7 linked regions of the Homo sapiens genome follow. The protein of the gene in region 1 purifies or fractionates together with the protein of each later gene. This does not show direct contact. Each region holds a gene or a part of one and is shown in the gene's direction. Other genes may lie near its edges.

Evidence for each region.
Region 2: the proteins of SCN4A (region 1) and DPY19L4 purify together in Homo sapiens (affinity purification with mass spectrometry; one large-scale study listed by BioGRID and IntAct). This does not show direct contact.
Region 3: the proteins of SCN4A (region 1) and SEC62 purify together in Homo sapiens (affinity purification with mass spectrometry; one large-scale study listed by BioGRID and IntAct). This does not show direct contact.
Region 4: the proteins of SCN4A (region 1) and CSPG5 purify together in Homo sapiens (affinity purification with mass spectrometry; one large-scale study listed by BioGRID and IntAct). This does not show direct contact.
Region 5: the proteins of SCN4A (region 1) and SMO purify together in Homo sapiens (affinity purification with mass spectrometry; one large-scale study listed by BioGRID and IntAct). This does not show direct contact.
Region 6: the proteins of SCN4A (region 1) and TMEM62 purify together in Homo sapiens (affinity purification with mass spectrometry; one large-scale study listed by BioGRID and IntAct). This does not show direct contact.
Region 7: the proteins of SCN4A (region 1) and SIDT2 purify together in Homo sapiens (affinity purification with mass spectrometry; one large-scale study listed by BioGRID and IntAct). This does not show direct contact.

The regions. Positions count from the first base shown.
Region 1 is NC_000017.11:63,955,919-63,959,418, reverse strand, and holds part of SCN4A (sodium channel protein type 4 subunit alpha), read left to right. Parts: coding exon 1-154; intron 155-1,900; coding exon 1,901-2,257; intron 2,258-3,500. UniProt on the Homo sapiens protein: Pore-forming subunit of Nav1.4, a voltage-gated sodium (Nav) channel that directly mediates the depolarizing phase of action potentials in excitable membranes.
Region 2 is NC_000008.11:94,736,900-94,740,399, forward strand, and holds part of DPY19L4 (probable C-mannosyltransferase DPY19L4), read left to right. Parts: intron 1-1,469; coding exon 1,470-1,560; intron 1,561-2,513; coding exon 2,514-2,635; intron 2,636-2,745; coding exon 2,746-2,891; intron 2,892-3,500. UniProt on the Homo sapiens protein: Probable C-mannosyltransferase that mediates C-mannosylation of tryptophan residues on target proteins.
Region 3 is NC_000003.12:169,976,807-169,980,306, forward strand, and holds part of SEC62 (translocation protein SEC62), read left to right. Parts: intron 1-139; coding exon 140-245; intron 246-3,500. UniProt on the Homo sapiens protein: Mediates post-translational transport of precursor polypeptides across endoplasmic reticulum (ER). Proposed to act as a targeting receptor for small presecretory proteins containing short and apolar signal peptides.
Region 4 is NC_000003.12:47,572,366-47,575,865, reverse strand, and holds part of CSPG5 (chondroitin sulfate proteoglycan 5 isoform 1 precursor), read left to right. Parts: intron 1-2,991; coding exon 2,992-3,180; intron 3,181-3,500. UniProt on the Homo sapiens protein: May function as a growth and differentiation factor involved in neuritogenesis. May induce ERBB3 activation.
Region 5 is NC_000007.14:129,202,133-129,205,632, forward strand, and holds part of SMO (protein smoothened precursor), read left to right. Parts: intron 1-490; exon of another isoform or gene 491-604; intron 605-1,251; coding exon 1,252-1,457; intron 1,458-3,070; coding exon 3,071-3,280; intron 3,281-3,477; coding exon 3,478-3,500. UniProt on the Homo sapiens protein: G protein-coupled receptor which associates with the patched protein (PTCH) to transduce hedgehog protein signaling. Binding of sonic hedgehog (SHH) to its receptor patched prevents inhibition of smoothened (SMO) by patched.
Region 6 is NC_000015.10:43,132,096-43,136,385, forward strand, and holds the start of TMEM62 (transmembrane protein 62), read left to right. Parts: upstream 1-1,490; 5' UTR 1,491-1,707; coding exon 1,708-1,887; exon of another isoform or gene 1,888-1,919; intron 1,920-2,161; coding exon 2,162-2,273; intron 2,274-3,416; coding exon 3,417-3,554; intron 3,555-4,290.
Region 7 is NC_000011.10:117,188,743-117,192,242, forward strand, and holds part of SIDT2 (SID1 transmembrane family member 2 precursor), read left to right. Parts: coding exon 1-84; intron 85-426; coding exon 427-500; intron 501-592; coding exon 593-659; intron 660-1,209; coding exon 1,210-1,283; intron 1,284-1,423; coding exon 1,424-1,547; intron 1,548-1,880; coding exon 1,881-1,998; intron 1,999-3,135; coding exon 3,136-3,272; intron 3,273-3,500.

The DNA.
Region 1 (3,500 bases):
AGCAGAGATGGTTCTGAAGCTGATTGCCATGGACCCCTACGAGTATTTCCAGCAGGGTTGGAATATCTTCGACAGCATCATCGTCACCCTCAGCCTGGTAGAGCTAGGCCTGGCCAACGTACAGGGACTGTCTGTGCTACGCTCCTTCCGTCTGGTACACAAAAGCCCCAGGGCCAGGGGCTGGGATGGGGGTGGGGTGAGGAGACTAAGGAGGGTGGGCACAGGGATGGGAGGAGAAACCCCAGGAAGCTAGAGGGCTGAAAACGAGGCCTCCTCTGCCTTGTGCACACCTGTTACCTCTCAGAACCTTTCTTACCTGTAAAACAGAGAAAAGGAGAGCCCTGTCTTCTTTCATAGGGCTGCTGGGGGGACCCAAGTGACAGAGGCCAACACTGGGTTTGATTCCTTAATGACCTTGAGCAGCAGTGGAGCAGGAACTCCAGCCCCATACTGCAGACCTGAAAGCCGGGGCTCTGGAAGTTCATTAGGAGTAGGATTGGGACCTCTGAATTTCTGTCTTTTCACCACCCCATAAGGAGCACTATTATTCTTTTTAAAACTTTATCAGCTGGACGCGGTGGCTCACGCCTGTAATCCCAACACTTTGGGAGGCCAAGGCGCGTGGATCACCTGAGGTCAGGAGTTCAAGACCAGCCTGGCCAACATGGTGAAACTCCGTCTCTACGAAAAACACAAAAATTAGCTGGGCTTGGTGGCGCACGCCTGTAATCCCAGCTACTTGGGAGGCTGAGGCAGGAGAATCACTTGAACCCGGAAGGCTGAGGTTGCAGTGAGCCGAGATCGCACCACTGCACTCCAGCCTGGGTAACAGATTGAGACTCTGTCTCAAAAAAAACAACAACAACAAACTTTATCAAGGGATCTTTTCATGCATGCACAAAAGTATAGAGAAAGTATAATGAACCTCCACGTACCTATCACCCAGCTTCAACAACTATCAACATTCTACAATTCCTGTTGCATCTGTCCCCCAATTTTTATTGTGAAAGCAAATCCCAACATATAATTTCACTTGTAAATACTTTAGTCTGTATTTTTTTTTTTAGACAGGGTTTCTCTGTCACCCAGGCTGGAGTGCAGTGGTACGATCACTGCTCACTGCAGCCTTGACCTCCCCAGACTCAGGTGATTCTCCCACCTCAGCCTCCTGCATAGGTGGGACCACCATGCCTAGCTAATTTTTGTAATTTTTGTAGGTCAGGGTTTCGCCATGTTGCCCAGGCTGGTCTCCAACTCCTAGGCTCAAGTGATGCACCTTCTTCGGCCTCCCAAAGTGCTGGGATTACAGGTGTGAGCCAACTGCTCCCAGCCATAGTCTGTATCTTTAACAGATAATGACGAATGACATTTTTTCTCTTTTCTTTTCTTTTTCTTTTTCTTTTTTTTTTTTTTTTTAGTGGAGTTTTGTTCTGTAGCCCAGGCTGGAGTGCAGTGGTGCAATCTCTGCTCACTACAAGCTCCACCTCCCTGGTTGAAGCGATTCTCCTTCCTAAGCCTCCTGAGTAACTGAGATTACAGGCACTCGCCACCATGCCCGACTAATTTTTTGTATTTTTAGTAGAGACAGGATTTTACCATGTCAGCCAAGCTGGTTTCCAGCTCCTGAGCTTAAGTGATCCACCCGCCTCGGCTTCCCAAAGTGCTGGGATTACAGGCGTGAGCCACCGCGCCTGGCCTGGACTTGTTTTCTTTTTAACACATGAAGGGCCTGAGGTGGTAGAATGAGTGTTCCCATTTAGCAGAAGGGCACACTGAGGACTCAGATGGTGTGGGGGGCTGGAGATTCAAGCTACTCGACACTGTTCTTTCTCCTAAGGCTGGGGCTGCCTTGGGTGGTGGTCCCTGGGCCTCATTCACCCTTGCCCTCCCTGCTTGGCAGCTGCGGGTCTTCAAGCTGGCCAAGTCGTGGCCAACGCTGAACATGCTCATCAAGATCATTGGCAATTCAGTGGGGGCGCTGGGTAACCTGACGCTGGTGCTGGCTATCATCGTGTTCATCTTCGCCGTGGTGGGCATGCAGCTGTTTGGCAAGAGCTACAAGGAGTGCGTGTGCAAGATTGCCTTGGACTGCAACCTGCCGCGCTGGCACATGCATGATTTCTTCCACTCCTTCCTCATCGTCTTCCGCATCCTGTGCGGGGAGTGGATCGAGACCATGTGGGACTGCATGGAGGTGGCCGGCCAAGCCATGTGCCTCACCGTCTTCCTCATGGTCATGGTCATCGGCAATCTTGTGGTGAGTGAGGCTGGCTGGGTGGCCCCTGCCCTCACCCGGGAAGCGTACAAGATGTACCTGATATTTGACTGTTTTCTATCTCCCCAACACATCCTCTCCAAAATGGCAATTTTATGTGGTTTAACCCCGTAGTTCTCAAATTTTAACCTGTGTAAGAATCACTTAGGAGTTACTTAAAACATAGATCCCCGGCCCCACCCCCAGAGTGTCTGATTCAGCAGCTCTGGGCCTAGGCCTGGGGACCTGCATTTCTGACAAGCTCCGAGGTGATGCTGATCAGTGGATGCTGATGGTGGTTCTGGGACCATGCTATGAGTAGCGCTGTTGGAACCTAGTGTTTTGAGTAAAGCAACATGATAATGAGTCAGACAGACCCACATTCCAGTCCCAGCTCCTTTGCCATCATCTGTGTGACCTTGAGCTAACTGCTGCTCTCTAGTCAAGCTGGGTTCTCTAACCCTCACATAGAAGAAAAACAACAGGGAGTTCATGAGGTCACTGCAAAGATGATGCCATAGTGTGTACAAAGGCACAGTTTTGTGGGGGAACCTGGGCCTCCTGGCCTTCTCCCACCCTCTTGACCTCCTCTGCTCCAGGGCCTATGGTCCAGGCGCCGAAAAAGAGAATCAGGCTGGATGTGGTGGCTCATGCCCATAGTCCCAGCACTTTAGGAGGCCAAGGCCAGGAGTTCAAGACCAGCCTGGGCAACATAGCAAGACACTCTTATCTCTACAAAAAATGGAAAAATGAAAAAAATTAGCTAGGCATGGTGGCACACACCAAACCCAGCTATTTGGGAGGCTGAGGCAGGAAGATGGTTTGAGCCGTGGACTTCAAAGCTGTAGTGAGCTGTGATCCTGCCACTGCACTCCAGCATGGGGGGGCAGAGCAAGACCCCATCTCTAGAAAACAAAAAAGAAACAGGTGCAGATATTGGGAAAATGCAGAGATGGCATAAACTGCATCTCTTCTGCCGCTTACTGTGGTTCAGGGCTTGGCATGAGGGGCTGGTGCAGAGGAAGGGGCCAGGAGGTGAGAGCCAGGGTATAGGGCCATGGTCCAGCTGGCCAGCATTTCTGCGGCTAGGGCCTCTGGAGGTGACCCTGACTTCTCCCCTTCTTGGGGTGGCAGTGGAGGTCACTCCTGCCAGAGCCCTGCAGTGCTGTGCCCAGCTGCCCCCTGCAGTGGCTGGTGCTGCCCTGGGCAACAGGGACTGGGAAGACGCCTGTCCCCATGTTCCCCA
Region 2 (3,500 bases), on another chromosome or scaffold:
TCACTATTCTTGCTATTCTTAGGGCATGTCTTGTGGTTTTCCTTCTAGATTTTCCGGATATATGTTATATATAACAAGTGATGACTTGTGATTTACAATTCATTTTAAACCTTAATGTTTCATTAAAATTATTGCCAGATTACTAAAAAGTTAAGTTCCTCATTAATGGGGCCACTAGTAATTAAAGAAAATTCAAACATGTCTTTGAATAAAAAGGATAAATATTATTAATATGTTAATTTGGAAGGTGAGGAGGGAGACAGAAGATTGAGGCTGAAATTTATTTTATTGTTATTATTTTTTGAGACAGAATCTCACTCCATGTCCCAAGGCTGCAGTGCAGTGGTGTGATCTCGCCTCACTGCAACCTGTGCCGCCTGGGTTCAAGCGATTCTCCCACCTCCCGAGTAGCTGGGATTACAGACACACACCACCAGGCCTAATTTTTCTATTTTTAGTAGAGACAGGGTTTCACCATGTTGGCCAGGCTGGTCTCAAACTCCTGACCTTAAGTGATCCACCCACTTCGGCCTCCGAAAGTGCTGGGATTACAGGCGTGAGCCAACACGCTGGGCCAGAGGCTGAAATTTAAAACCAAGTAAGGGCCAGGCGGTGACTCAACGCCTGTAATCCCAACACTTTAGGAGGCCGAGGTGGGCGGATCACGAGGTCAGGAGATTGAGACCATCCTGGCTAACACGGTGAAACCCCGTCTCTACTAAAAACACAAAAAATTAGCCGGGCGTGGTGGCGGGTGCCTGTAGTCCCAGCTACTTGGGAGGCTGAGGCAGGTGAATGGCGTGAACCCAAGAGGCGGAGGTTGCAGTGAGCAGAGATGGCGCCACTGCACTCTAGCCTGGGCAACAGAGCAAGACTCTGTTTCAAACAAAACAAAACAAAACAAAACAAAAAACTTCAAATAATCCAGCCTGGGCAACATTGTGAGACCCCCTTCTTTACAAAAAAATAAAACAAAACAAAACAAAAATGCTGGCCATGTGCCTGTAGTCCTAGCTACTGGGTAGCTGAGGTGGGAGGATCATTTGAGGTTTCAGTGAGCCATGATTGTGCCTCTGCACACCAGCCTGGGTAACAGAGAGAGACTCTGTCTCTTAAAAACAAAAAACTTAAATTTAAGTCTGGGCGTGGTGGCTTACGCCTGTAATCCCAGCACTTTGGGAGGCTGAGGTGGGTGGATCATGAGGTCAGGAGATCGAAACCATCCTGACTAACACGGTGAAACCCCATCTCTACTAAAAATACAAAAAAATAGCCGGGCGTGGTGGCAGGCGCCTGTAGTCCCAGCTACTCGGGAGGCTGAGGCAGGAGAAATGGCATGAACCTACGAGGCGGAGGTTGCAGTGAGCCGAGATCGCGCCACTGCACTCCAGCCTGGGCGACAGAGCGAGACTCTGTCTCAAAAAAAAAAAAAAAATTAAATTTTAAATAATAATTTCATTTTCTTTTAGGAGCTTGAACGGGAAATCACGTTTCAGGGTGACAGTGCCATTTATTACTCCTATTATAAAGATATGTTAAAGGCACCTTCATTTGAAAGAGGTATGATAATCACAGTTATATTTTTAATAACAGTATTTTCCTTTTTCTTTTCTTTTCTTTTTTTTTTTTTTCCGAGACGGAGTCTTGCTCTGTCACCCAGGCTGGAGTGCAGTGGTGCGATCTTGGCTCACTGTAACCTCTGCCTCCCGGTTCAGGCAATTCTCCTGCCTCAGCCTCCCTAGTAGCTGGGATTAAAGGCATGCACCACCATGCCCGGCTAATTTTTGTATACTTAGTAGAGACGGGGTTTCACCATGTTGGCCAGGCTGGTCTCGAACTCTTGACCTCATGATCTGCCCGCCTCAGCCTCCCAAAGTGCTGGGATTACAGGTGTGAACCACTGCGCCCGGCTGTAATATCAATATTTTTCTTAAATAAAACTTTGTTCTTCTATTTTAGAACCTTTCCTCCTCCTTTTATTTTTACTTTACATGTAGTAATTGTGCATATTTATGGGGAGTGATATTTTGATATTATACACAATGTATAATGATCAAATCAGGGTAGTTAGTATATCCATCACATTGGACATATATCACTTCCTTGTGTTATGAATATCCCAAATCAACTCTCAGCTTTTTGAAAATATACACTAAATTGTTGTTAACCATATTCATTCTATAGTACTACAGAATACTAGAAGTTATTTTTCCTATCTAGCTGTAATTTTGTATCCATTAACCAGTCTCTCCCTATCCTCCCCTCCCCTCTACTCTTCCCAGCCTCTGATAACTTCTATTCTGCTATATTGGGACCTTTCAATGTGGGGATTTGTCTCAGGATATAGATATTTCTCTTTATTGTGCTAAATTTTTAAAAAATGGAAAATGCAGCATGGAGTATTCTATTTGGGATCTTTCTTGATAACAATATTAAATATTTAAGGACTAATGACATGTTTAATTACTGTGAAGCAGAATAAATAATCTGGAGAAAAATCTTTCTGTCTTTAGGTGTTTACGAACTGACACACAATAACAAAACTGTATCTCTGAAGACTATAAATGCAGTGCAGCAAATGTCTCTGTATCCGGAACTTATTGCTAGCATTTTATATCAAGCCACTGGTAGCAATGTATGTATTTTTCGTTGGACCCTAATATTTATTTTCTCATGTATTCATGAATCCTCAAATTATTTAATGCCATCCTATTGTCTTGTTCTCTTTCTGTTTTTTCCACATAGGAGATTATTGAGCCAGTGTATTTCTATATTGGCATTGTTTTTGGATTGCAAGGAATATATGTTACTGCTTTATTTGTTACAAGTTGGCTTATGAGTGGAACATGGCTAGCAGGAATGCTTACTGTTGCGTGGTTCGTTATTAACAGGTAAGAAAGCTGTTTTAATTGATTTTTAAAAACTTTTTGTGGCTGTAGTAGTCAGAGTTCTGAAAATGCCTCCCCTCCCCAACAGTCCTCACTCTAATCCTCAGAACCTATGAATATGATGAGATGCCATTCCCATGATTATGATACTTTGTATAGCACATTAGACAGATTGGAAAGATTACCCTGTGGGCCTGGTCTAATCACGTGAGCCCTTAAAACCAAAGTGCTTTCTCTAGCCTGTGTAGAAAGAGAGATCAGAGGATTTTCTGCACCACTGCAGGCATGAAGCAAGGAGGAAATGAATTCTGCTAGTAGCCAATGATATTGTAAGAGGACTACAAGCCCCTGATGAAAACTGTAGCTCTGGCCGATGCCTTGATTTTAGCTTAGGGATACTGAGCAGAGCATCCAGCCATACTCTGCTGGCCTTTGTGAGATAATAAATTTGTGTTGTTTTATGCCACTATATGCAAAAATTGAGACATAATATGCCAGCATATTCTTTTGGATCTTTTTCTTTTTTTATTCATCCTAATCCTTAGAATCTGAATTTTGGGTCTTCTAGGTGAATGTGTGTGTGTATGCATCTGTGTATTTGTATATGTATTT
Region 3 (3,500 bases), on another chromosome or scaffold:
CATGTTAGATTTAGTTTTCTGTTGAGTTTGGTTTTCTTTTTTGTTGCCAGAGTGTTGAAATTTTACTTTATAAAATATTATTTAGATAGACATAAATCCCCATGTATGCTAAATTTAAAATAATGAATTTCTTCTTTAGCTTCAAAAGCAGTGGACTGTCTTTTGGATTCAAAGTGGGCAAAGGCCAAGAAAGGAGAGGAAGCTTTATTTACAACCAGGGAGTCTGTGGTTGACTACTGCAACAGGTACTGTTTATTTCTTAGTGAAGAATAACATAATAATTTTAAATTTTCTTCATAGTCCTGAAGCTCCTTACATCATTAAATGTAGTGATACTACAACATAACTCAAATACTGTTTTCACATGTAACCTGATTTCTTTGGTACCTCTGGAAATGTGTTTGGTATTAGACTATTATACTTTTAACTGTATATAATTTTTATTTATGTTCTATTTTATATATTTGTGAGCCCTACTGAAGGGTCAGCAACAAAAGTCATATACCAGTGCCTACAGTAGAAAAGAAAGTTTTTTCTTTTGTAGAGCAAATTGGTTGAGGAGTCTTTTTTTCAAAACTTTTGCAGGAATTCCTATTAGCTGTGTTACCGCTACTTTTTTAGTGCCTGCACCCTGAGCCATAAGCCTCATACCCTTTCCTATTTGGTTCAGTGTTTGCTAATGTAGTATTTCTTCTAAAATCAAGGAAGCTGCAACATCTACCTTATCTTTTTCTGAGAATTTCAAGATGAAATACAGCTAATTCAGTAATATACATATATTTTTCATAATAGATACTTTTTCTGTTTTGAAAAAACTTTTGATGTTAAGTGGTTTACCTAAAAGACAAAATCACCTTCCTTTTGGAAGGAAGTATGCTGGTTTTTCTTTCCATTTCTTTTCTTTTTTTTCTTGGTTTACTTAATACTAAGCATTTTCTTAATATATGTTAACTAAATTTTGTTTTCATAACACTAAAGCTTATCTTTTGGGATTTTAGATTATTTTATGTGTACTAATATTTTATTTAATGGCACCTAAAGTATCAGCCACATAAGAACCCTCTTAAAAACCACTATTTCACAACCTGGTTTCTTAAGCTGTCAAGTTAAAGAATTATTGAATATTTCTTAAAATTCTTAGTTGCCAAAGACTAGAGGTTACTAACAGACCTTTTAGAAACAGTAGGTTTCGGCCAGGCACAGTGGCTCATGCCCGTAATCCCAGCACTTTGGGAGGCCGAGGCAGGTGGATCACAAGGTCAGGAGATCGAGACCATTCTGGCTAACAAGGTGAAACCCCATCTCTACTAAAAATACAAAAAATTAGCCAGGTGTGGTGGCGGGCACCTATAGTCCCAGCTACTCGGGAGGCTGAGGCAGGAGAATGGCGTGAACCCGGGAGGCGGAGCTTGCAGTGAGCCGAGGTTGCGCCACTGCACTCCAGCCTGGGCGACAGAGTGAGACATTGTTGAGACAAGGATGAGCTAACACTCATGCAGTTGATATTTGCTTGTCTTTTGTAGCAACTTGTCTAGTTAGAATTAGCTCCAGCAAGCATATATCCAGGGCAACTTGAATCTGCTCGTGGGGAAAAAATAAAAAGGTGAATAGAATTAGCTCCACGGTACAAACTTCCAGGCTGGGCACAGTGGTTCACGCCTGTAATCCTGACACTTTGGGAGACCAAGGCAGGGAGATCACATGAGGCCAGGAGTTCAAGACCAGCCTGGCCAACATAGCGAAACCCCATCTCTACTAAAAATACAAAAATTAGCCAGGCGTGGTGGCATGCACCTGTAGTCCCAGCAACTTGGGTGACTGAGACATGAAAATAGCTTCAGCCCGGGAGGTGGAGGTTGCAGTGAGCCGAGATCGCACCACTGCACTCCAACCTGGGTGACAGAGCAAGACTCTGTCTTAAAAACAAACCAAAAAGTACAAACTTCCTTACCTGCCACAAAACTGATGTATTTTTTACATGTTGTGTAAAAATTAAGAGATGCTACAAATGCAGAAACTGGGGCACAGAGAACTTAAGTACTTTATCTAAGGCTACACAGCTAGCAAGTGGCAGATCTAGGGTTCTACATCTAGCAGCCTGTCTCCACAGTCTGTGTTCTTAACTACCGCTCTATACTGTCTCCTCCAACAAAATGACGATGCATTTAATGGAGCTATTAGATCTGTAAGCCCAAATCTCTGAGTAGAGCAGCCAGTATGAATCCACATTTTTTGGCTTTTTAGGAGCCTTGGTACCTTGTTATTTGAAAAGCTCAAAAGACCTGAGTACAGAGAGTGTCCAAAGACACTCGATTTTCATTGTATACGCTCTTCCCACTGATGTCAGATTGTTTGAGTCCTTTCTGCACTAAAATAAATGAGAATAGCATAACTTTAAGGTCTCCAGAGCCACTTCTAATATAACCGTAGAGTCTTATTGGCCAGTTCTCATGAGTTGCTGCCCAATAGCAGACAAAATCACAAAGGGTCTCTTGACCAGTTTCTTTTTTTCTTTTTTTGGCATCCTCCAATACTGTCAGTTTTTCTGAGGCAGCTAAGTGGCATGAGGGAGTCTGAGGAAAAACAAAATAGGAAAATGTAGGATGATAAAACAATCTTTTCTAATGTGATCTATACCTTTTTATGGCCTATATCATGAATGAACTCATACATACTAGGTTAAGTCTCCACAAGACTTTGTATCACTGACCCCCAATCCAGTTATGTCGTCCTCAGTCTTGTGCACATGCCACACTCATTTTTTCTTCTAGTCTTTTTCCTATCATAACTTGCCACTTTCCCTAAACGGTTCTGTTTCCTCTGTCCCACCTGCCTCTCAAAATCACAAACAAATCCCTCAAGTCCTTCCTCTACCGAATGTACTCTTCCCCAGGCCCTCCAGCCTTCATCAGCCTTTGTATCTAAAGTTCTACTGAGTTTATCAAGTTAGTACCTCCCAGTTTGGCCCTTAACTATTTTAGAATTGCTACATATGTGTGAGTTTTTTTAAAATCTCCTGCCAGCTAAATCTGAAAACAATTGTAAGACTGTTTTATACTTTATTGTAACTCCATAGCAATTACCACAGTGTGAGCACTTCATAAAAACTCACCTTTGCCACATTGGTGGAAGTCCCCAACATGTCTGGCATTTAATAAATGTTTGTTAAATCTGAAAAAAAAATGGAAGTGAAGGAAAAAAATACAGAAGTAATTTTTTAAATGTTTTAGAAGCTGTTTTAAAACCACTTACTCAACAAATAGTCTAGGCTCCAGGAATACAATAATAACTATGACTTGGTCCCTACATCAAAACATATTCTGATCTGTTAGGGAAGATTTATAACTAATCACAATGCAGTGTGTTGAATAAGGAAGAGAGAGATGGTGAAACTATGAAGAATGACATCACACAGAAAATGTTTTAAGTAAATTTTGAAACATAAATAGGTGATTACCCAACAAACAAGAGAAGAAAGGAAATTCATTCCAAGCAAAGGG
Region 4 (3,500 bases), on another chromosome or scaffold:
AGGGTTCTGGTGGTACTGGTGAGAGGGGTAGGCCCATAAACCTACTCTGTGGGATAAAGACAGCTGTTGAACACCGCTCCATGCCTTGTGCTCGGCGGGAGGAGGGGCCAGTTCCCTGGAAGGAATGTAGGCACGCAAACTCAAAAGGGAGGACCTTCTTGGAAACAGACCCCAAAATGCAGCCACTCACACAGATAAAATCAAGCTGAGAGTCTTCGCATTGCAGATGTGCGGGTGTTTCTTGACTTTGGGAGGTGGCTTTTTTCTTTCTACTTTGATGTTTGTCTACCTTGGGATATCAAATCCATAATCCTTTTAAAGACTCAGAGTTTAGTTTTCCTAAGGGCATTGTCTGTAGCTCATCAGTAATTACCCTACTCACCTCACTCTTAGGAACTGTCCTCACAGTGAGGTATTTAACTTGCTGGAGAGCTTGCAGCCTGATTCCGGAAGAATCCCAGGGTGGGGTGATCAGGTGGTTTGCTTGTCTCCATCCTTTACAGGCTGTAGAAATGGAGGAGAGCCCTCAGACTCCTTTGAGGGTTGTCTCCATTAGTCCTAGATGGAGCATTTCTGTCATCTGTGTGTCTCTTTTTATTTTTAGTAGAGATGGGGTTTCACCATATTGGCCAGGCTGGTCTCAAACTCCTGACCTCAAGTGATCCGCCCACCTCAGCCTCTCAAAGTGCTGGGATTACAGGCGTGAGCCACCACGCCCGGCCAGGGTATCTCTTTTTCAAGTGTCATTCTCCATCCTTCTTGTTCTTGTTCGTTCTGCAAGTATATGATGAATTCAAGTTCCTTAGGTCTTGATGTAGTATATCAGAGAATAACATGTAGAAAGCAATGAGTATTTTGTCCTTGGCGTTGTAACTTAAGTTCCAGTTTCTTTCTATGAAGTTCTTTTTTTTGTTGTTGTTGTTTTTAGAGACGGAGTCTCACTCTGTCGTCCAGGCTGGAGTGCAGTGGTGCAATCTCGACTCACTATAAGCTCCGCCTCCCAGGTTCATGCCATTCTCCTGCCTCAGCCTCCGGAGTAGCTGGGACTGCAGGCGCCCGCCACCACGCCCAGCTAATTTTTTGTATTTTTAGTAAAGACGGGATTTCACTGTGTTAGCCAGGATGGTTTCAATCTCCTGACCTCATGATCTGCCCTCCTTGGCCTCCCAAAGTGGTGGGATTACAGGCGTGAGCCACCGCGCCCAGCCGAAGTTCTTTATTATAAATGGTCATGACATTAGGGTCACTCATAGGATGTGACCACACAGTTCTTGGAGTGGTCCAGCCATTGCCAGAAGGAGGTACTATGATTAAGAAATTGTAGCAATTTTATTTTTAAAAAGAAAATATGGCAATAAACTAACTTGCCAGTTGATTAAGGGCTACCAGAAATATGAGGAAACCCTGTGATTTTGCTCCTCAAAATTCAGTTTGGGGGACTATAGTGATGATTTCAGCCTGGGGGCTGTGCAACCTCTCTGCAAAATCATCATCTTTCATCCTATTGGAGGCCTGGAATTTTCACCTTCAAAGTGAACTCCCCATAATAGTATGAAATTTGGAGCCCTTGCTGCCTCTAGAGAGCTGTAAAAGTCCCCAGAATCTCCTGGAACTCTCAGAAAATTCCCAAGTGGAAGAATAAGATTGTCTTCCTCAGTAAGCTACATGGCTCTGCCAGCATGGGTCTACCAGCCTCTCACTGCCTCACAAGGGCTTCTCCACGTGTCCACTCCAGTTCCCCTTGCTTAGCTTCCATCCCAGGATCACATTCGGGCCTCCCTACCAGATTCCTCCCCTGGCTGTGTACACCCAGGCCTGGCCACGGCTTGAAAACTATTTTTGCATTCCACTCACAGGAGACTGCTGAGCCGTTGGTTGCAGACTGCAGTGTGCCTTTGTCTCTGTCACCCTGACCCACTGCAGGGAAATGAGCAGAGCTGTGGCGGAACTTCTCTAGAACACCGGGGTAGAGGCCCCACTTACAGGGGTCTGCATTCCCTGGCAACCTCAAACAGATAGCCTCCCCATGACGGCAGAGGCTCAGTTGGAAAATGAAGAATTTCTTGCTAGCCATGTCTCCCCACCCTATTCTAGATGTGGAGTAGCCAGTTTTCTGGTGCATAATTTCCCCGTTTCTGGAGCCCTTTCTCTTGTCTGTCATTCACCCTGAGGTTCATGTCCTCCCTCCTTTGCCTGCCTCTGTATCCTTCCACATCTTTCCTCTTTGAAGCAGCCTGGTTCCCATGGAAACAGCAATGTCATTGGAAGAGTTGGAGCCTGGGAATGTCCCCAAGGGCAGGAGAAAGTCACTCAACAAAAAGGCTAAAACCCACCCAGAGGGTTGATTCTCACTGTGCTTGCATGACAGTTCTCATAGTACTAGGATAGGGAGCTTTAGGGGCAGAACTTGGGGGGGCTGCAGAGATAGAAGAATCTACATCCATCTTTCTATTTGTCCTTGTCTGTCACTTCCTTATTTTTAGGTGTCTTCTCAGCCACGTGAACTAGGTGGGACTGCAAAGCAGCAAGATAGGTTTGCATGTGCAGGGCAGGTCCTGGGACTTTGTAGCTGTAGCTCTTATTCCTCTTGTTTTTCATCTTTCTTTCACCCAGAGCCCAGGGCAGGGAGAGGCCTGAGAGGATCCTGTAGGTGTCTTCATTGAGGCTGCAGAGCAGAAGACCAGGATTCCCTTCCCTCCTTGGTCACTTAGCAGTCAGAGAACTTTGACCAGTTCACTCAGTTTCTCTACACCTCGGTTACCTCATTTATATCACAGACCTCAGAGCTCCCTGGCCCACTTCATAGAATGGTTGTAAAGGCAGGGGCGATCACACCAGCTCTGAGGTCTGTGCAGATTCGGAGCATTGCAGTTCCTCTAGATGGCCTTCGGAACAGGCTGTGGAGATAGGTGTTGGGGTCAGGGCCCAGGCCCTTACTGTGGCCGTGGCTGCCTGCTCCATCGCCACGGTTTCTCAATGTCGCTGCTGCAGGTGCAACACGCAGGACTACATCTGGCACAAGGGGATGCGCTGCGAGTCCATCATCACCGACTTCCAGGTGATGTGCGTGGCCGTGGGCTCGGCTGCCCTCGTCCTGCTCCTGCTCTTCATGATGACGGTGTTCTTTGCCAAGAAGCTCTACCTGCTCAAGACGGAGAATACCAAGCTGCGTAGGACCAAGTGAGTCTGTGTCACTCACCCATCCACCCAGGTCAGGGTGTGGGAGGCCCCCCGACGCTGCTGCACCCCTCCAACTGATCCAGGGACTTTGTCGTGAGGGTTTCTGGCACCTGTGCTCCATTCCCAGCTGTTTTGTCTGTGCTAAAAATTCACTCAGGCTCATCTGTTCCTACACAAAATGTGCTGGAGCTGCAGCAGAGGTGAAGCCCCTGTGGCACACTGCCACTGTCCAGCAGCTTTCCCAAAACCCTGCACTAGGCATCTGAGAGCCTGCTGTGAAAAAGGCAGCCAGCATGTAGCTACTCCTCCTCTAGTCCCCA
Region 5 (3,500 bases), on another chromosome or scaffold:
AGCGCTTACTACATGACAGGTACTGTGCCAAGGGCATTTAAAGCATTATATCACTTTTCACAGCAGTTCCATGAGGTAAATCTATCATCCCCATTTTACAGATGAGGCAACTGAGGCTAAAGATAAAGTACTTTGCCCAAGATCATACAGCCAGGAAAGAGTGGAGCCAAGATTTGGACCCAGGCTGGGCAGTTGCCATGCACATGCCCCTTACCTCTCTACTATGTTGCCTTCCCCCGAAAAGAGTGGTTACCTGTCTCTACCACCCCCAGCCTGGAAATGTGACCGGCACCCATGTTGGCTCTCACATCCTCATATTCTCTCCTAATGCAACTTCTTGCTTGGGAAATAGATATTGCTGAAGCAGGGTTGATTCAGGAAGGGCTTCTGTGATGGGCAGGGCGGAGGACTAGGCTGGGGACGGGTGCTGGGAGATTGCCGCCTGTTTCTGTCTTGCTGACAACATTTTTCCCCTCTCCGCACTGGACAGAGCCTCTTCTGTTCCTCTCCATCTGACTTCCTGCTTCCTCCTCTGGCTTTGGAGTGCCTGGCTCCTCTGACTACCTCTTCTTAAGCCCCCATCTCTTCTCTCTCACTCCGCTTGGTAAGAGGAACAAGGGTTCTGGGGTCTGGGCAAAGGGAAACATCTCCTGGCTCTAGCAAATGGGCCCCGTGAGAGTTGGGTGCACCCCTGAAAAGGTAAATCCACCCCGGGGAGCTCTACCAGAGGCATTACCACTCCCTAGCAGGGCATCTGGAAGTGGCAGTTATTTTCTTAAAACTTAAATGATAGTAAGCATACAGAATAGCGCACAGATCATGAGCTTGGTTTCCACAAGGTGAATACACTCATGTAACCAGTATCAGATCAGGAGATAGAATATTCCCAACATCCCATGTAACCAGTACCAGATCAAGAAGTAAAACATTCCCAGCAGCCCAGAGGTTCCTCTCCAGGCTCCCTTCTAGTCACCGTCCCTAGAGTAGAGGGCTGGGGCATTTTTGTTTGTCACAATCACTTCTGGGTTCTACTGGCATTGAGTTGGCAGAGTCTAGTGTCTGCAATGCATGGGACAGTCCTATGGTATAAAGAACTGTCCTGCCCAGATGCACTGTTGAGAAACACTGTACCTGCCAGGTCTGACCAGTGATGGGCTGCAGTGTGGCAAAGGCCTGGAGGACAGGGGTGAAGCTGCGTCTGTGGGTCAGAGTGAGGAGGGGCCTTCACTGCAATGCTGTTGCCACCCCCAGGCCTCCGGAATGCCCCCCGCTGCTGGGCAGTGATCCAGCCCCTGCTGTGTGCCGTATACATGCCCAAGTGTGAGAATGACCGGGTGGAGCTGCCCAGCCGTACCCTCTGCCAGGCCACCCGAGGCCCCTGTGCCATCGTGGAGAGGGAGCGGGGCTGGCCTGACTTCCTGCGCTGCACTCCTGACCGCTTCCCTGAAGGCTGCACGGTGAGTGCTCTGTGAGACAAGGTCCAGGCTCTCTGGGTTGGGCAGGACCGGGTATAGGGCAGGGTCCAGTGGGGAGCAGGGGAGCCCAGAGCTTTGTCTCCTGGAGACCCTGAGCCTACAGCCATGGGGTCAACAGGACACAAACTCAAACTGCAGCTCACTGGCTGGATCCGTCTATTAGGGATTCTCTATTTATTTATCAATGATCACATGTTCAGCAAAATGTTTTGAGCACTGGCTGTTGGGTGTTGTGGTGTTACGGGCATCACGGATGACAGGAGCCTATCAGGAAGTTTCTCATGTATGTTGGGAGTTAAGGCGCGAGCGTGTGAAACAGCTAGAGCCACCAAGACAGGGGACGTGAGCTAGTTCTGGGTGGTGCAGGAGAGGTCTTCAATGAAAATAATAACAGTAATAATGATGGTAATAATACTAATTAGTCCTGTTTACTATATGCCAAATGCCATTATAATAAGCTCATGCCTGTAATCCCAGCACTTTGGGAGGTCGAGGTGGGCAGATCACCTGAAGTCAGGAGTTCCAGACCAGCCTGGCCAACGTGGCAAAACCCTGTCTCTACTAAAAATACAAACATAAGCCTGATGTCATGGTGTGCGCCTGTAGTCCCAGCTACTCGGGAGGCTGAGACACGAGAATCGCTTGAACCCGGGAGGTGGAAGTTGCAGTGAGCTGAGATCGTGCCACTGAACTCCAGCCTGGGCTACAGAGTGAGACTCTGTCTCAAAATAAATAAATAAATAAATAGGCTGGCCAGACACAGTGGCTCATGCCTGTTATCCCCACCACTTTGGAAGGCTGAGGCGGGTGGATCACTTGATGAGGTCAGAAGTTCAAGACCAGCCTGACCAACATGGTGAAACTCCGTCTCTACTAAAAATACAAAAAATTAGCCAGACATGGTGGTGGGCACCTGTATTCTCAGCTACTTGGGAGGCTGAGGCAGTAGAATCGCTTGAACCCGGGAGGTGGAGGTTGCAGTGAGCCAAGATTGTGCCATTGCACTGCAGCCTGGGCGACAGAGCCAGACTCTGTCTCTCTCTTTCTATATATATAATATATGTTTATTCATTTAACCCTTAAACCATACCATAAGGTAAGTACTACCATCTTAGAAATGGGGAAACTGGCCGGGCGCAGTGGCTCACGCCTGTAATCCCAGCACTTTGGGAGGCCGAGGTGGGTGGATCATGAGGTCAGGAGTTCAAGACCAGCCTGGCCAACCTGGTGAAACCCCGTCTAAAATACAAAATTTAGCCGGGTGTGGTGGTGGGCGCCTGTAGTCCCAGCTACTCGGGAGTCTGAGGCAGGAGAATTGCCCGGGAGGCAGAGGTTGCAGTGAGCTGAGATCACGCCACTGCACTCCAGCCTGGGCGACAGAGCGAGACTGTCTAAAAAAAGAAAGAAAAAAAGAAAGAAAGAAGTGGGGAAACTGAGGTACAGAGAGGCCAAATAATTTGCCAAGCCAGCCCTGGGATTCAGGTCCTGGAAGTGTATCTCCAGCCACCCTGCCATGCTACCTAGATACCTTTCCCTAAACAAGAGGCTCGTCCCTGAGCTGCCTTGACACCGTCTTTTCCCATCCCTGGTGCCAGAATGAGGTGCAGAACATCAAGTTCAACAGTTCAGGCCAGTGCGAAGTGCCCTTGGTTCGGACAGACAACCCCAAGAGCTGGTACGAGGACGTGGAGGGCTGCGGCATCCAGTGCCAGAACCCGCTCTTCACAGAGGCTGAGCACCAGGACATGCACAGCTACATCGCGGCCTTCGGGGCCGTCACGGGCCTCTGCACGCTCTTCACCCTGGTCAGCCGCGGGAGGGCAGGCCCGGGGGGCCCTCAGCCTGGAACGTGGGAAGAGAGCCAGAGGGAAGGGGGGCAAAGAGGTCTTGGTGGGGGTCCCCAGGGAAGGGTCATGATCAGAAGGGTCTGGGGCTCAGTTAAGGGTGTCTGTGTCAGCAGAATAACCCTAACCTCACAGAATGGCCCACTTCTCTCTTCTAGGCCACATTCGTGGCTGACTGGCG
Region 6 (4,290 bases), on another chromosome or scaffold:
AAAAAAAGTTTAAAAATCCCTGTTTTGTCCTGAAATTTTAGTCTGTTCTGGATAAATAGGATTTTCTGAGAGAGATATGAGAAGTTGTAGCTCTGATGTCTAGCTGTAGTCTCCTGGGTCTGCTGATTGCATTATTTTAATTTGCTTTTCTGGGAAAGCAGTTTTGCTAAAAGCTGTACAGACTTTCCTTTGTACCTAGTAGTACTTTATATAGTATAGCTTTGGGCTATGTAGCATTTTAAGACTCAATTAATAAAAAATTAATCTGTTGCTGACTCTGTTAATTCCTATTTCCACATGTATTTCCTTGAAGAATTCAGGATACGACTTCTTGTGTATGACAGTTTTCCTTCACACACTATTTTTGTGGGTGTGTATATATCTGATTTGGGGAGAATTTAAAAAACACATAGCTTTTTAATTTGTTTGAAACAGACCTTTTGCCTGTTACATTTTGTGCTCTTAACCAATTAAAGAAGCCAATGACATGTTAGTTTTATATTGTGTTTTCCACTAGTATATCCCTGTTGATTTGTTTGTGCCTTTTATTAACTGCCATTTTCTAAAATTTTTTTCAATAAAGGGAAGACGTGAAAAAAATTACTCAGAACAGCAATATATAATAAACAATTAAAAAATCAACAATAAGGGAGTTGTTAGATAAATTAAGGTAGGGCTGAATCTAATTCTCCTGGGTCTGGCCCATAGGAAGTATTTAATACTTATTAAATGAATGGTATACTACCGTGTTGCAATATTATTTACTCAGGTGCATGTGAAATCAGTTTAAGGGAAAAATAACTTTCACAAAACATAGGAATTACATCTATAGAAAACCTATGCTGCCGGGCGCGGTGGCTCAGCCTGTAGTCCCAGCACTTTGGGAGGCGGAGGCGGGAGGATCGCTTGAACCTAGGAGTTCCGAGGCCAGCCCGGGCAACACAGACAGATCCCAGTCTCTACAAAAACTATATTTAAAAAATTAGCTGGGCGTGGTGGTGCGAGCCTGTAATTCCAGCTACTTAAGGTCAGGGAGGTCGAGGCTGCAGTGAGCCATGATCGCGCCACTGCATTCCTGCCTGGGGGATAGAGACCCTGTCTGAGAAGTGAAGGAAAGGGGAATGGTAGAGGGAAGGGGAAGAGAAAGAAAAGAAAACCTATGGAGGTACGTTAATAATCAGAAGGGGCCAGAGGAAGCCACCTGACACATTTGTGAGACAATTTAAAAGGCGTTCTCATACATTCTCACTTTGATACAACAACCCTGCAAAGTGCGCACGGAAGGTGTTATTAACTCCGTTTTACAGGTAAGGAGATCGACCCACTGAGGTCAGGAGTGACTGACCAAGGCGGAGCCAGGACTCTAGCCCCCGCCTCCCGGCCACTGGTCCCGGTCTCCTTCCCCGCCACCACTCGGCCACCGTCATTGGTGTTCAGAGTTTCGGTTCTCTTTTCTGTGATCGTATTACTTATGCAAAACGAGCCCAGTCACTTGCGCGGCCAGAGAGGGGCAGGTGCTGGGCGGCGGCTGACGGGCGCAGCACCCTAGGCCCAGTGTCTGGCTCCAGCCCCGCATCCGGCGCCGGCCCCGCATCCAGCTCTGGCCCTGCGACAATAGAGTCCGGAAGTGCAGGCAAAGCGGCTCCCGGGAGCGCCGCGCGGTCCTGCGCGGGATCAGCGAGGGCCGCGCCCCGGCGGGCGGGCGGCATGGCTGCAGTGCTGGCTCTCAGGGTGGTCGCGGGGTTGGCGGCCGCAGCGCTGGTGGCCATGCTCTTGGAGCACTACGGCCTGGCGGGCCAGCCCTCGCCGCTGCCGCGCCCCGCGCCCCCCAGGAGGCCGCACCCTGCGCCAGGGCCCGGAGACAGCAACATCTTCTGGGGCCTGCAGGTGACGCGGCGGGAAGCCGGGCCGGGAGGCAGGTGCAGATCGGGCACCGTGCGGTGGGACCCTTGCGGGTGTTGGGCCCCACGCTCCAGGCTGGGGACCTCAGTCAGATTGTAACTCGAGGCTCTGTCTAGTGCTGGCCCTGTCCTTACCTGGGGGGTTCGTTATGCATTGCCTCTTTGCCTTTTCCTTCTGCCCGAGAGAGCCGCTGAGCCGCCCCTCCCCATGCTGCCTCTTCCTGGCTCAGATCTCTCTGTTCAATACCTGTTTTCGGCAGATATCCGACATTCACCTGAGCAGGTTTCGAGATCCAGGCAGAGCGGTAGACTTAGAGAAATTCTGTTCTGAAACTATTGACATCATTCAACCAGCTCTCGTCCTAGCAACAGGTAGGGAGGCTTGCCGTGCTGTGGTGGTGGTCTGTGGTCCGCATGGTAGAACTCTAGCCAGGGCTGTGGCTTTTCATTTTGGGGACGTTGGGAGCAGTATAGCCACAGCCCCAGGTGAGCTCTGTGAGGTGGAAGAGATTGGACATTCTAACCCCTTTGCCTATGGATAACTGAATGAGTCAAGATCCAGGCAAAATGATTTGACGTAGCAAGGTTTTGTCAAAGCAGTAGAAGCAAGGCTCCTGGTTCTCATGTCAGTCTGTTGTCTGATATATTTGTATCTGGTTTTTGTTCTTGTTGTTGTTACAGTTCTGGTTGTGAGAATTAGGGAAAAGCCTGTAACCACGAATCAGAAGTTCTCTTCTTTTGCTAACTTTTCTATTTTCTTTACATTATTAATCTTATATTTTCAGTTGTTTGAGGCTTCCGGTGACCCAGGGCACTTTTTCTTCATCCTTTGATAGTTTTATGACTTAAGTTTTCTAGACTCTTCAAACACTTTATTTGCTTTCAAACTGTAATGGGGAGAAGAAGCTAAAGGAGCATCTATCTATCTTGCTTACTGGGGAATTCATCACTCATCCACCTTATTGAAGCATCTCTGCTGACATGAAAGGGTATCAGTTCTGATTTAATGGATGAGCCTCCATAAAAAGTTTTCTGTTTAGTTCTCTATAAATTTTGGTATTTTGTTGTCCAATTCCACCTGCCACATTGCTTCTTGCTGTAAAAATAATACTTGGTCAAATCACATATTCTGATTTTGTGGTTTGGAAAATATGGTTGCCATAGATATTAGGCAGCCACTCAGAGTACTGGAATTTCTTATAAATCATTTTCATTTTATCAGAGTCTATTGATGCATTTTGTACTGTTCTCTTTAAAGATTTTTTTAACAACCCATTTCGAATATCACAGGAGATTGAACAGGCATTTGCTAACCTATAAGAAACAAAGTCCTTGCTGAGAAAATCTTGTTAGTTTAGATGGCTCGATTTGGACATTGGTGGTCTCGTGAGCAGTTATGCTTATACACGTTGAGTGCTTTAAGTATCCTTGTTCCTTCAGTGTACATATCTAAAAAAAATGGAACCCCCAGTAGTTTATTTTGCATTGTGATTCAATTCTTGTGTAAACCTACAGGAGACCTGACAGATGCCAAAACAAAGGAACAGTTGGGATCCAGGCAGCATGAGGTAGAATGGCAAACCTACCAGGGTATTCTGAAGAAGACAAGAGTCATGGAAAAAACCAAGTGGCTGGATATCAAAGGAAATCATGGTAAGAGCCAAGAGCCAGATACAATAAAGACAAGAGTTTTTTTCCCCCTTCAGGAACCTAGATTTTCCAACTTAGATTGTAAAATTATAAAGTGGGACATTTACATATACTAAAGGTCACATCTCTGAAATACAACTATATAATGTGGTTTTAAAACTTCAAATGTCATTGTTAGCCTTTGAGATGACAATTGGTATGGTCCTTTTTTTGTGACATATGCTGCTTCTTTTTTTATTATTATTATTATACTTTAAGTTCTGGGATACATGTGCAGAATGTGCAGGTTTGTTACATAGGTATATATGTGCCATGGTGGTTTGCTGCACCCATCAACCTGTCATCTACATTAGGTATTTCTCCTAATGCTATCCCTCCCCCTGCCCCCATCCCCCAGTCCTTTTTTCTGTACATGGAAAAAATATGAGTTTTAGCAAAACTCATGCAGACAGATGTTTTAATAAATATACATTTTGCTAAGTGAAAGAAGGCAAACCCGTAAGTCTGCATACTGTATGATTTCATTTATATGACATTCAGGAAAGGCAAAACAATAGACAGAGAACAGATTGTAGTTACCAGAGGATAGGGATTGGGAGAGAGATTAACTGCAAACAAGCATCATGGAGAATTTTTGGTGGTGATGGAACTAGTCTGTATTTTGATTGTGGTGGTAGACTTCAGGTTCACTATATATTTGTCAAAATCCATAGAACTGTAAGTCACAAAGGATGAATTT
Region 7 (3,500 bases), on another chromosome or scaffold:
GTGGACTCCATGAGCTCTGTGGAGGAGGATGACTACGACACATTGACCGACATCGATTCCGACAAGAATGTCATTCGCACCAAGGTCTGACCCGTGGGCCTGGCCTGGTCAGGCGTTTCCTGAGAAAGGGACATTCTGCGTTCCCGCCCCAGCATGTTCCCACTGACGTGGCATTTAGGGAAGCAGAAGGAAGGGGCTCAGCTGGGGCAGGGCAGATGCCGGGGAAACTAACCTGACCTCCAACCCCTTCCGGCCTGATTGGCCAAACCCTCTTGGTCTAAGCGGCCGCAGCAGTGGGATGTCCTTGAACCCTGCCCCCCTGAATTCGGCCCTGTGTGAGGGAGGCCCCTCTTGTCCACCTCTAACCTGGGGGAGGGGGCTTCTCCCAAGTAGCAGTAAGTGGGGCTGATTCCAGCTTCTCCCCAGCAATACCTCTATGTGGCTGACCTGGCACGGAAGGACAAGCGTGTTCTGCGGAAAAAGTACCAGATCTACTTCTGGTGAGTGGGCTGAGTGTCTGGGGCTCTGCTGTTGGTGGGTGTGTGGCAGCCTTGGGTGCCACCCACCTCACTGCCGCCCTCCTGCTCCGCAGGAACATTGCCACCATTGCTGTCTTCTATGCCCTTCCTGTGGTGCAGCTGGTGATCACCTACCAGACGGTGAGAGGGCAGGGCAGGTTCACCTTTCCGACAGCCTAGGACACCGCCCCAAAGTGCAGAGCCTCCCAGCCTGGGGCCCTGGTGTTCCATCACAGGACCTGGGTTCAGATCCCAGCTCTGCCTTCCCAGCCGAGTGACCCAGGGCAAATCACATAACCCCCCCAACCCTGAGTGTCAGTTTCTTCATCTGCAAAATGGGAGCAGCCCGCACTAAAGATAGCCCCTCCCTGGTTTCTTGTGCGGATTATGAAACCAAAGTCCTGGGGCTTTGTAAGCATCAGTTTCCCTTCCCTTTTCTCTGTCCCGTGGGGCAAGAACTTCCATCACGGTCATGCCTCAGGGTTTTCAGCCACGCCTAATGAGAGGGGACAGCGACTGTGCTGCATGGCATCCATGTTCTCAGAAGGAACACGTGCCTGCGGTGCTGTGTATTCCCACCTGCTAGCTGTGGTGGCACTTGCTGTTTTTTGCCAAAGGGGCCCGGATGGCGGGGCGTGGGCTGAGTTGGGCGTGACGACAGACCCACTCCCTGTCCCTGCTCCTGCTACAGGTGGTGAATGTCACAGGGAATCAGGACATCTGCTACTACAACTTCCTCTGCGCCCACCCACTGGGCAATCTCAGGTGGGGGTCATGCTGGGAGGCCCCTTGTCCAGGCCAAGGGTGAAATGGGGCAGGGCCTGGGGCTTTGCAATGCCCACGTGGGCTAGGGAAGAGGCCTGGGTGTGAGTCCCAAGCAGTCTGCCTTGTGTTGCCCCTTCTAGCGCCTTCAACAACATCCTCAGCAACCTGGGGTACATCCTGCTGGGGCTGCTTTTCCTGCTCATCATCCTGCAACGGGAGATCAACCACAACCGGGCCCTGCTGCGCAATGACCTCTGTGCCCTGGTAAGGGAGCACCTGCCTGCCTGCCGCAGCCTCAGCTCCAGCACAGACCTCAAGCCTTGGCTCCAGGACACCCTTTTGGGCAGGCCTGGCCCTGCCTTCCCCAGCTCTCCCCTCCCCAGTTCTGTCTGGCCCACCCTATCCAGCCCAGCCTGCCCCACCCTGCCCTGCCCTCCCTTGCCAGCCTGCCCAGGCCAGCCCACCCCTGCACACCCACACTCGACACATACCCCACCCCTTTTCCTCTTCCACTCCTCTTAGGGTCCCTCTTTTGGGTCCCTTCTTCCCTTCCTGCCTCACTTCCTCCCTCCCTTCCCTTCTCTCTCTCCCCAACAGGAATGTGGGATCCCCAAACACTTTGGGCTTTTCTACGCCATGGGCACAGCCCTGATGATGGAGGGGCTGCTCAGTGCTTGCTATCATGTGTGCCCCAACTATACCAATTTCCAGTTTGGTGAGTGGGGCGTCCTTCTTTTCTGGCTCAACCTACAGCAGGGACCTGCCTGAGTCCTTCACTATCCCCAAGTCACCCACAGGGATCGCTAAGACACCCCTGTAGGAAACTCCAAGGCTGGCGTGCCTGGGTGTGCACACATCCTAGCCTATGGAACATGGGCACCTAGATGCTGCTTCATTCATCTGTCAAGCTATTCCTATGTAAAGGCATGTGCCGCAGTGAAGAAAACAGTATAATTAAGAAGGGGTCCCTGGCCGGGTGCAGTGGCTCACGCCTGTAATCCCAGCACTTTGGGAGGCCGAGGCAGATGGATCACGAGGTCAGGAGCTCCAGACCATCCTGGCTAACATGGTGAAACCCCGTCTCTACTAAAAATACAAAAAATTAGCCGGGCACAGTGGCAGGCGCCTGTAGTCCCAGCTGCTCGGGAGGCTGAGGCAGGAGAATGGCATGAATCCGGGAGGCAGAGTTTGCAATGAGCCAAGATCACGCCCTGCGCTCTAGCCTGGGCAACAGAGCGAGACTCCGTCTCAAAAAAAAAAAAAAGAAGGGGGCCCTGGCTGGGCACTGTGGCTCATGCCTGTAATCCTAGCACTTTGGGAGGCTGAGGCGGGGGGATCGCCCAAGGTGGGGAGTTTGAGATCAGCCGGGCCAACATGGTGAAACCCCATCTCTACTAAAAATGCAAAGATTAGCTGGGTGTGGTGGTGCATGCCTGTAATCTCAGCTACTCAGGGGGCTGAGGCAGGAGAATTGCTTGAGCCCAGGAAGCGGAGGTTGCAGTGAGCCGAGATCCCACCATTGCACGCCAGCCTGGGCGACAGAGTGAGACTCCGTCTCCAAAAAAATAAAAGGGAGTCCCTGATCTCAGGGTGCTCACAGACTAAGACACAGACCAAGTTGTCCCTGTTTTCAGGAGATGTCAGACTCTGGGTGACAGCCAGTGGGGTGGCAGTGTGGTGTGGCAGGTACAACTAAGGAACTGAAGTTCAAGTGCCACCCTGCCACCAGCTCACACCATGGCCGTGGTGGGGCACCAGGGCTCTCTCTTCCTCTGGGATTGTTGGGGCCAGGAGTTCTCTGCTGGGGCTTGGTGGCCATTTCTGCAGCTCCCTTCCGTGTCCCTCATCCTAGACACATCGTTCATGTACATGATCGCCGGACTCTGCATGCTGAAGCTCTACCAGAAGCGGCACCCGGACATCAACGCCAGCGCCTACAGTGCCTACGCCTGCCTGGCCATTGTCATCTTCTTCTCTGTGCTGGGCGTGGTGAGGGCCTGACCTGCTCTGCTCAGCCTGTATGATAGGAAAGGTGCACGTGCGTTCAGACACGTAGTGCACACCCTCCGCCACCTCCTGCATGAGAGATTCCTGCTCCTTCCCTGAGATGCCTTCCTGGGCCCCTCTCAGAGTCCCAGCCTGGCTGAGCAGCCAGCCCCAGGAAGGGTGGGCCATCCGAGCCACTTCCCTCTCCACCCTCACCGCTGCCCTTGGTGG